2 separate regions of the Homo sapiens genome follow, and region 1 is linked to region 2. The links come from fine-mapping of genetic effects on gene expression. A gene starts in region 2. The other region holds a variant in brackets. All regions are shown on one strand. Distances are from middle to middle. Region 1 overlaps C3AR1 (complement C3a receptor 1). Region 2 holds the start of FOXJ2 (forkhead box J2).

Region 1 (5,375 bases), 25 kb before region 2:
AGTGGAAAAACCAAGATTGAAAGTACAAGAAAGAGGAGAAATTTACACTAATATGGACTTCCAGATGAGGCTGTGATTTTGATACACACATAAATCAATACAGTAGATTTTAAATTGTCTATCATAGGATGGGCATGGTGGCTCATGCCTATAATCCCAGCACTTTGGGAGGCCAAGGCAGGCAGATCACCCGAGGTCAGGAGTTCAAGACCAGCCTGGCCAACATGGCAAAACCCCGTCTCTACTAAAAATACAAAAATTAGCCAGGCGTGGTGGTGCACGCCTGTAATCCCAGCTACTCTGGAGGCTGAGGCAGGAGAATCGCTTGAACTCGGGAGGCGGAGCTTACAGTGAGCTGAAATCAATCCACTGCACTCCAGCCTGCGCGACAGAGGAAGACTCTGTCTGAAAAATAATTAATAAATTAATAAATAAATATAATTGTCTATCAGAGAATGCTTTTATGTGGTCCCGTGTGAGGTGAAGGAAGGCAAACTAAAACAGCGTGAGGACCTTCTGGTTTCATGATCCCACATCTTTATGTGGGAAGATTAGAATCCTAAGAATATGTATGCATTTTCAAAAAGATACTGTTTGTTTTAACATTTTTTTCATCTTTTTGCAGAAGTTTAGCAATGGCGTCTTTCTCTGCTGAGACCAATTCAACTGACCTACTCTCACAGCCATGGAATGAGCCCCCAGTAATTCTCTCCATGGTCATTCTCAGCCTTACTTTTTTACTGGGATTGCCAGGCAATGGGCTGGTGCTGTGGGTGGCTGGCCTGAAGATGCAGCGGACAGTGAACACAATTTGGTTCCTCCACCTCACCTTGGCGGACCTCCTCTGCTGCCTCTCCTTGCCCTTCTCGCTGGCTCACTTGGCTCTCCAGGGACAGTGGCCCTACGGCAGGTTCCTATGCAAGCTCATCCCCTCCATCATTGTCCTCAACATGTTTGCCAGTGTCTTCCTGCTTACTGCCATTAGCCTGGATCGCTGTCTTGTGGTATTCAAGCCAATCTGGTGTCAGAATCATCGCAATGTAGGGATGGCCTGCTCTATCTGTGGATGTATCTGGGTGGTGGCTTTTGTGATGTGCATTCCTGTGTTCGTGTACCGGGAAATCTTCACTACAGACAACCATAATAGATGTGGCTACAAATTTGGTCTCTCCAGCTCATTAGATTATCCAGACTTTTATGGAGATCCACTAGAAAACAGGTCTCTTGAAAACATTGTTCAGCCGCCTGGAGAAATGAATGATAGGTTAGATCCTTCCTCTTTCCAAACAAATGATCATCCTTGGACAGTCCCCACTGTCTTCCAACCTCAAACATTTCAAAGACCTTCTGCAGATTCACTCCCTAGGGGTTCTGCTAGGTTAACAAGTCAAAATCTGTATTCTAATGTATTTAAACCTGCTGATGTGGTCTCACCTAAAATCCCCAGTGGGTTTCCTATTGAAGATCACGAAACCAGCCCACTGGATAACTCTGATGCTTTTCTCTCTACTCATTTAAAGCTGTTCCCTAGCGCTTCTAGCAATTCCTTCTACGAGTCTGAGCTACCACAAGGTTTCCAGGATTATTACAATTTAGGCCAATTCACAGATGACGATCAAGTGCCAACACCCCTCGTGGCAATAACGATCACTAGGCTAGTGGTGGGTTTCCTGCTGCCCTCTGTTATCATGATAGCCTGTTACAGCTTCATTGTCTTCCGAATGCAAAGGGGCCGCTTCGCCAAGTCTCAGAGCAAAACCTTTCGAGTGGCCGTGGTGGTGGTGGCTGTCTTTCTTGTCTGCTGGACTCCATACCACATTTTTGGAGTCCTGTCATTGCTTACTGACCCAGAAACTCCCTTGGGGAAAACTCTGATGTCCTGGGATCATGTATGCATTGCTCTAGCATCTGCCAATAGTTGCTTTAATCCCTTCCTTTATGCCCTCTTGGGGAAAGATTTTAGGAAGAAAGCAAGGCAGTCCATTCAGGGAATTCTGGAGGCAGCCTTCAGTGAGGAGCTCACACGTTCCACCCACTGTCCCTCAAACAATGTCATTTCAGAAAGAAATAGTACAACTGTGTGAAAATGTGGAGCAGCCAACAAGCAGGGGCTCTTAGGCAATCACATAGTGAAAGTTTATAAGAGGATGAAGTGATATGGTGAGCAGCGGACTTCAAAAACTGTCAAAGAATCAATCCAGCGGTTCTCAAACGGTACACAGACTATTGACATCAGCATCACCTAGAAACTTGTTAGAAATGCAAATTCTCAAGCCGCATCCCAGACTTGCTGAATCGGAATCTCTGGGGGTTGGGACCCAGCAAGGGCACTTAACAAACCCTCGTTTCTGATTAATGCTAAATGTAAGAATCATTGTAAACATTAGTTCTATTTCTATCCCAAACTAAGCTATGTGAAATAAGAGAAGCTACTTTGTTTTTAAATGATGTTGAATATTTGTCGATATTTCCATCATTAAATTTTTCCTTAGCATTGTCTAAGTCTTCCAGATTCCATTTAAAACCATTTCTTGTTCTCCTACGTGAGTGAAAGATGATCATATATCCTAATGCTTTGTTGTCGTGTGGTGTTGATGGTTTTAAACGAAAAGAAAGTGCAAAAAGAAAATGCCTGTGAAGACAAGAAGCCATGAGACTGAGTCTGGAGCATAGGGTTATGCAATGATGCCTGTCCCTGGGAACACCCCTGGGTACAGGATATAGAAATTTCCACTATTACATAGAGTTTCCACTATTACAACTAAATAAGCATCTATTG[T/C]GTGAAAACTGACTCATGAAATGTTATGAAAGCTGTGGTTTGGGGAGTTCTGTTTCTTCTAACTGCCTACCGGTTGGGCACCTATTTTCCACTCCTCTTCCTAAGCTCCTTAATTTCCTTATTACTCCCCAGCCTCCAAATCTTCCACATCAGACTTTGTGCCTCAAACAACCTCTAATTTCGTAAGATTCTAGTTACTCCCTTCCTCTTGCTCCAAATGAATACTTTCTAAGAAAGTATTTCAAGTGGAAGGAGAAAGAGGGTGGAGGATGGAGCAGCAATTCTTCTACTCTCTGCAACTGAGTACCCTACCAGGCTTGCCATCACATTTTAAAACATGACGACAGGCAACTTACATGCCAAAATTACCAAATATATCTTCTGGGTTTTTTAAATCCTTTTCTTTGCCAAAGTAATACATGCACATAGTTTTAAAATAATTTAATAAGGTATATAATGAAATATGAGGTCTCCTACCTCACTGTGCCCAAAAGTTCCCTCCTCCCACTCTCATTTCCCAGAGATAATCCTTGCACAATTTTAGATGTTTCCTTTGATAATTATCATGATGTTTCTAAATCATGTGCTTATGCTGCTCTTTTCTGGAGGCATGATAAAACGACTTCTTGTTTTGAAAGATGAAGATGTTTATCCAAGCACCCCATATTTTTAATTTGTTTATCCAGCATCCCAACATTCATTAATAACCATATTTTAATTCATTCATGACCACATATTTTTCTTCTACTTTGTCTATACACTCCAACCATTTATATAGCTTTCCTTCTGTCCCTTTTTCATTTAAAACAAAATTACCTAACTCCCTACCACCTTCTCATTTTTCTGTATATATAAATGTTTGTGTCAAACGTCTGAAATTTCTGGCTTGTTTGTATCACAACGTGGCCTCATCTAAACCAAATACAATGATGTAGTCTAAAAACAGAAAATGACATGTGTTTTAGACCTGCAAGACACTATCTGTTCAATGGCTGAGGTGAGGGTCTGGACTACAGATTTTTTATAAAGTATATGCAGAAAAATTACAAATCACTAGGAATTCTTTCAGTTGTGAAGAATGTCTGACATAAGATTTGAAGTGCTACCTTTCCAGCTTATATATTAATTTGCTTATATATTTGATATGAATAAATGCTTTTTTTCTCATGGGTCCTTGCGAGGCTCAGAGATTTATGAATCCTTTTGTTTCACATTCAGAATATATCACATCTCTAAATATGCAGCAAATAAGTCTCCTAGTGAGTGACTATAGACTTGCTATAATAGCAATTAGCCAGGCTTCCAGAAACCCCAGCACATCCCATAAGACCCTGGGAATAAGACCTAAACTCCTGGGGTTAGTGTATAGGATATCAAGGTGAATAATCTTGACGCAGTTATAAAGATTTAATGTACAACGAGTAATCAGCATTTCTGGACTCCTTTTCTTTTCCATTTGCTTTGGAAATGTATTCTGAAGAAATTCCTACAATTAGAGCTCCCTCATTTCTGATGAAAACCTGGTGAGTACCTGTAACTATTTTGTACTGTATCTTCTCCAGGAAGTCCCAGATGGGAACACAGCTCCTGTCCAAAGTATAATATCTTTTCTTTTTTTTTTTGAGATGAAGTATCACTCTGTAGCCCAGGCTAGAGCACAGTGGCACACTTGGCACGATCTCAGCTCACTGCAACCTCCACCTCTCGGGTTCAAGCAATTCTTCTGCCTCAGCCTCTCAAGTAGCTGGGATTACAGGCGCCTGCCACCACACCCGGCTAATTTTTGTATTTATAGTAGAGATGAGGTTTCACCATGTTGGCCAGGCTGGTCTCGAACTCCTGACCTTGTGATCTGCCCACCTCGGCCTCCCAAAGTGCTGGGATTACAGGTGTGACCCACCGCGCCCAACCAATATCTTTTCTTTTTGAGAGAGAGTTTCGTTCTTGTCACCCAGGCTGGAGTGCAACAGTGCAGTCTTGGCTTACTATAACCTCCGCCTTCCAGGTTCAAACGATTCTCCTGCCTCAGCCTCCAGAGTAGCTGGGATAACAGGCATGCACCACCACGCCCGGCTAATTTTGTGTTTTTAGTAGAGACGGGGTTTTACCATGTTGGTCAGGCTGAGCTCGAACTCCTGACCTCAGGTGATCTGCCTGCCTCGGCCTCCCAAACTGCTGGGATTATAGGCATGAGCCACCACGCCCAGCCCCAAAGTATAATATCTTAAATCTTTAAACTATCCTAAAATGCAAGCAAGGTGGGCCTACTCCATATACCAACCTACAAGGGGTGACTGACTCTCCCGCAATATGTCATCATACTTGATAGCATTTGAAAAGAGGCACGTTAAGGACGTGCCTTTGATTCTTCTTTCCCACCAAGGTCACAAAACGTGTCAGGGTCAACTAATTCAACCCAGTGGTGGAAGGTGGAAGAGGAATAAAGACGAACTGAGACTAAATTCTTTCACGTTTCTCTTTTCCTTCCCTGGCCAAAAGAAACTTGAGACCACTACCAGTAAGATAAAACTGTAAACATTCTTTTTTTTTTTTTATTAAGAAAGCATGCAAAAAAACAATGACAACAACTTGTGAG
Region 2 (5,375 bases):
GCAGCAAGCCTGCAGTGGTTTGCATTACAAAGCCTGCACTGCATCTGCAATGGTTTTCAGGATGTCAGAATCTCAAACTTTTCCTTTAGAGATAATATCACCCAGTACTGGCTAATGCTAGGATCAGGAAGACTCTAAGGATGAAGGAATGAGGAACTATCATCTCTTATCTTCCCGGGGGAACTAGGTGTAGTCATAAGACATGGTCTGGGAAAGCACACTCTCTAAACCACAGTTAATCCCACTCAGTAGCCACCTACTTCTAACTGATTCCAGAGAAGCAAGCAGGGTTAGGGAACTCAGTCCAAGCAGGGCCAGTTAAACTGCGTGGCGGTGGTGTACTTGGAGATGTTGTGATATAGTTCACCCTGAGCCATTCAGGCAGGTGCACGCCAGCATCTGGTGAAGTACTTTATAAGAAACAGGCTGCTGTTAACCAGCGAGGCCTCTTTTGTAAAAGGTAGGGGAAGGAGTTCTGGAGTTAGGAGTCAAGGATCCTCATCCTTCTGAGACCAGAGGTATCAGCAATGAAGCTCTCTTATTAGTCCTAGAAGAAATGATCCCAGCCTGAGACTGGGTTGCCCTGCTGCTTAAAGGACTGTCCTGTAGACCGTCACGAGGGCTCCCATTGACTGGGGGGAGGCCAAGCCTTTCCCCTCAGGTGGCCATCCTTACCACCACCTATCCATGTCCTTGTACAGAGGCACCTGCTTCTAGAGGCCCACCAGAAACATACAATTCTAGGTAACTGGAGTATAGTCTGAAAAGCACATAAGTACCTGTCTCCACACACATACCCACTTGAAACAGAGAGCCACATTCACATGAATTAAGAAGTATATGCATGTTGTCCTATAGCACAGCCACACAAACCTGTGCCCTATCTCATATACCACCAGTAGCTTCCAGGACAAATGACTGTACTCAGGAATTTAGGTAGACCTCACCCATGCCCCAGAGAGAGGAGGAAATATGAAAGGCCAAGTCAGATGAAGCCTCCTTCACAACTTGTCCTTGCTGTGAGACAGAAGATAAGGTATCTGCTAATGGTGAGGCAGGAAAGCAGACAACCAGCTAGTGACCTCTCCTAAAAACAGCCTAGGCTTCAGGGGAGGATTTCCTGGTACCCTTTTCCTGCCTTTTCTGAAGATTCTGGACTTTGATAATTCCCTAGCTTATGAAGGAAAACTTTAACACAAGGTTCGAGGGACTCAGAACTGAACAAGAAACAGGAAGGGAGAGGATGAGACTATTAGGTACTTTTCTGGAAGGAAACTTTATATACTCCTCAGAAGTGAAATCTCTCCAGTGGTCAACTTGTTTAACTGGAAGTCTGGACAGAAGCGGAGCAGCAGCCCTCCTCCCTTCGTATCCAGGATCTAATTTTTCCTGAAGAATTGTGAGCAAAAAACAGGAGTCGAGAAGGGGACTGGGGCAGTGGTTCAGGGCCAGCATCAAGGAAGCACTTTAACCCGGGAGTTGGCATTCCCCTGCACACTTTCTTCTCGCCTCAGAACATGTGGGATTCCCATTTTCCCTTTGGATTTTATGGGCAGAGGCATACATCCAGCTAGGAATGGAAATGTCAGGAGAGGAGGCCTCTTGGTATCTGAGATAGGATGAGCAGGAACAGATTGCTTTTCTTGTCAAGGGAGCTATAATTGCAGTAAGCTGGAGGGAACACCTCTGGTGAACACTAAGCTGACCTCGGCATGCCCTGGGCAAGGCCAGGACCCCAGATGCCACCGTGATTTTCATGACAGCCCACTCTCCAGGGGAAAAGGCCCAAGGGTGAAGGGTGGTATGGGAATCTTACCACTGGTTGGGTTGTGTAAATCACTGCTACACAGTATGCATGTTCTCAAAATGCAGCTGTTTTCCGATAACCCTTTTCCTCAGCATGAAAACATCCACTTCCCTAAGGGACCTAAAATGAATCCCATCCCTTTAGTCCCCAAACACTAAGAAACCCATTTCTCAGAGCTTCTGCAGCAAGATGTGGGTTCAAATCCAGGAGCTCCCTTGGATCACATTTCCCATTGGATTTTCTGAGTCATCACTCTGTCTTCCCCGGCAGTGAAACCCACGATCCACCAGCTCAACCCCCTACACCCACTAGTGCCAGACAATGACAGAGAGAAGATGAAAGAAAGCACTAACCTGTCTCCAAGGTTCCTCCGGCAAAGGGAGGGAACCACCTGGTACTGGAGTTTGGGGTTGGAGGGATTCCCCTCTTCAGAGGCAGGTGACGGCTCTCATCCTCAGTGGCTCTTCCTGGACGAGGCTGAGCCTCCCAAGTTGGTGAGGGGAACTGGGTCCCCTGAGGATGAGGAGTCAAGGTTGGAGGAGGGGGAGGGGGAGGAGAAGGAGGTCCTACTTGGGGAAGGTGGCACACCCCCCACACCCTGCTTGTTACCCGGGGGAGGAGGGGAGGAGCCTCTCCCAACCAGGAGTTGTCTCCTCCCCCTTGGGGGAGTTCCCCTCCCCCCCAAACTGGATCTTTCTGAGGTGGAGGGCTCTTTCTGTCTGCTGGAGATAGGAGCGGAGGGGCTCCACCCCGTTCCACTGTCTAGGCACGAGGAAGTTGAGGGGGAGGTCTTCCCCTCTCCAGAAGGCTGAAAGCCGATTCCTCTTCTTTCCCTGGAGTGGCTTCTGAACGTAAGGACTCCTGTCTCCTGTGAATAGTGGTGGGCCGAGGGTGCCTACTCCACAGGCACAGCCCCGTCTCTCTTTGCCTCCAAAGTCCTGAACTGTTGAGAGTGTGTGTTTGGAGGGGCGGGGGCGCGCTAGGGTGGTCTCACTCTGCTTCCCTACGGAAAGCTCCCTTCTTTCCACTTCTGGGGGTCTCCTCCCCGGCCAGTACAGGGGTCTTCCTCGCCTCTAGGCAGGAGAGAGGCGTCCCCTCCAGGGGTCTCTTCTTTCCCTCACCCGAGTGGTAAGGGTCTTTTCTCTCCAACAGGGGGAGAGGTTGCTCGCGTCCCCGCTCCCGCCTCCGCTCCCGGGGTGCCCCAGAGGGTGGGGCTTTCGTACTCCCGGCTGTCCCTGAGCTGGCCTGGGCAGCACGGTCCGGGAGGCCGCGGCTCGAGACTCCGGTCCCTGCTACTGTGGCGGCAGCACCTCCTCTAGGGCCGTCCTGTCGGGTCCGCTCCCTTCGGCGCGTGGGGCTCCCCGCGCTGCCACCGCTCGGGCTCCGACCAGTCTGGGCTCCCGGGGAGCCAGAAGGCGGGCAGACAGTGTCAGGGCTCGGCGCGGGCTCGGGCTCGGCTCGGCTCCGCTGCAGGCCCCGGCTCCTCCCCGGCCTCCGCGCCGCGCTCCGCGCCCCTCCCCCTCCCCCGCCCGCCGGCCGCTGCCGCCACCGCCTCCCGGCGCGGGTTAAGGAGGAGCCGGGAGACGCCGAGCCGCGGGCAGCGCCGAGCCGCGAGCCTCGCTACCCGGTGTGCGCTCCGCCTGGAGAGCCACGGCCGCTCTCACGCCGGCGAGGGATCTCGCCGCCCTCGCCCACCTGCGGCCGCGTGGCTCCGGGAGTTCGCCGTCTACCCGGGATGACAACTCACTGCTCCCCGTCGGGAGAGTCCCTAGTGCGCACCGTATACCGTCAATTCCAGCTGACACCCCAACTCCGGCGTTTCATTCTGTTAAACTCCGTATACAGATGAACAGCCCCAGCTTTCTCAGGACTGTCTTTGATGGGCTTCTCTTTCCCTCGAGATAATTTATAAAGGATCATGAGCATTGAGGTGAAGATTGGGGTGAAGTTTATATGTTACCCTTATATCATCCTGGAATTCAGTAAATGCTCCTTGAATGAGTGGATACATGATAAATGAGCGTGTAACGGTGAAATAAACATCAGAAGATCTGGGTCCTGTTCCTTGTTTCAGCTTCCTAAACTTGTGCATGGCCCTTGTTCTCCGCAATCTTGCTCAGCGAAGAAGGGACCTTGATACTTGGCCTGCTTACCCTTTACAGCTGTCACATCCTGAAGTCATATTATTCTGCTGCAAATTCTCATATATTTCATACTCTGGCTTTTTTTTTTTTTTTTTTTTTTTTTTTGAGGTGTTGTTTCACTTATTGCCCAGGCTGGAGTGCAATGGCACGATCTGGGCCCACTGCAACCTACGCCTCCCGGGTTCAAGCGATTCTTCTGTCTCAGCCTCCCCAGCAGCTGGGATGCCTCAGCCTCCGGAGCAGCTGGGATTACAGGCGCGCGCCACCACGCCCGGCTAATTTTTGTATTTTTAGTAGAGATGGGGTTTCACCAAGTTGGCCAGGCTGGTCTCGAACTCCTGACCTCGTGATCCACCTTCCTCGGCCTCCCAAAGTGCTGGGATTACAGGTGTGAGCCACCGCGCCCGGCCCATACTCAGGCTTTTTAAACTTTTATCAAACTACCCTACTTTCTTTCCTTTCTTTCTTTATCTTTTTCTTCTTTTTAAATAGAGGCAGGGTCTCAGTATGCTGCCGAGGCTGGTCTTTAATTCCTGGGTTTAAACTATTCTCCCTTTTTATGCCTCCAAAGTGCTGGGATTACAGGCAGGAAACACGGCCCGGCCTACTCTCTACTTTATAGCACATAAGATAATAGGAGGCCAGGCGCAGTGGCTCACGCCCGTAATCCCAAAGCTTTGGGAGGCCGAGGCGGGGGGATCACTTGAAGTCAGGAATTGGAGACCAGCCTGGCCAACGTGGTGAAACCCCTGTCTCTACTAAAAATACAAAAATTAGCCCGGCGCGGTGGCGGACGCCTGTAGTGCCGGCTAAGGCAGGAGAATCGCTTGAACCCGGAAAGCGGTGGTTGCAGTGAGCCGAGACCGCGCCACTCCACTCCAGCCTGGGCGACAGAGCCAGGTTCCGTCTAAAAAAAAAAAAAAAAAAAAAGAATTAGCCAGGCGTGGTAGTGCGTGCCTGTAATCCCAGCTACCTGGGAGGCTGAGGCAGGAGAATCACTTGAAACTGGGAGACGGAGGTTGCAGTAAGCCCAGATCGTGCCGCTGCACTCCAGCCTGGGAGACAGTGAGACACCGTCTCAAAAAAAAAAAAAAAAAAAGATAATACGAATACAAAAATATTGCTTGCAAAATATTTGAATTGCCCCCAAAAGACTGCATACTTAAGTTGTATGTATATATTATATGAATAATTATATTTACAATATGCCAGGCATTGCACTGAGCATTCTGCATGTGTTGTCACATTGATGATTCTAGCGATTCCCTAAGACACTATTATTATACTTCTTTTACAGATGAGAAAATTGTGACTTACAGATACTATGTGTGAGTTCGCTTAATTAGTAAGTAGCAGAGTCAGGACTTAAATCCAAATGACTCCGATGCCCAGCTCTTGACTTCTATACCATTGTCCGGAGCGAT

What was found.
Region 1: its variant is fine-mapped to the expression of FOXJ2 in whole blood (TOPMed, PIP above 0.99). The same link has a PIP of 0.9 or more in monocytes, monocytes after LPS, monocytes after Pam3CSK4 and monocytes after R848.

The regions. Positions count from the first base shown.
Region 1 is chr12:8,055,446-8,060,820 of GRCh38, reverse strand. It overlaps C3AR1 (complement C3a receptor 1), which reads left to right. Exons shown (of 2, transcript NM_004054.4): 2 at 626-3,977. The coding sequence starts at 636. The coding sequence ends at 2,084. It overlaps FOXJ2 (forkhead box J2), which reads right to left. Exons shown (of 11, transcript NM_018416.3): 11 at 5,304-5,375. Among named protein-coding and RNA genes, the nearest start is that of C3AR1, 8.2 kb to the left of the region's middle. The variant T/C (reference allele first, on the strand shown) is at 2,780.
Region 2 is chr12:8,030,619-8,035,993 of GRCh38, reverse strand. FOXJ2 (forkhead box J2) reads right to left here and starts at 3,278. Exons shown (of 11, transcript NM_018416.3): 1 at 2,161-3,278. RefSeq lists silencers at 3,184-3,423, 3,444-3,593.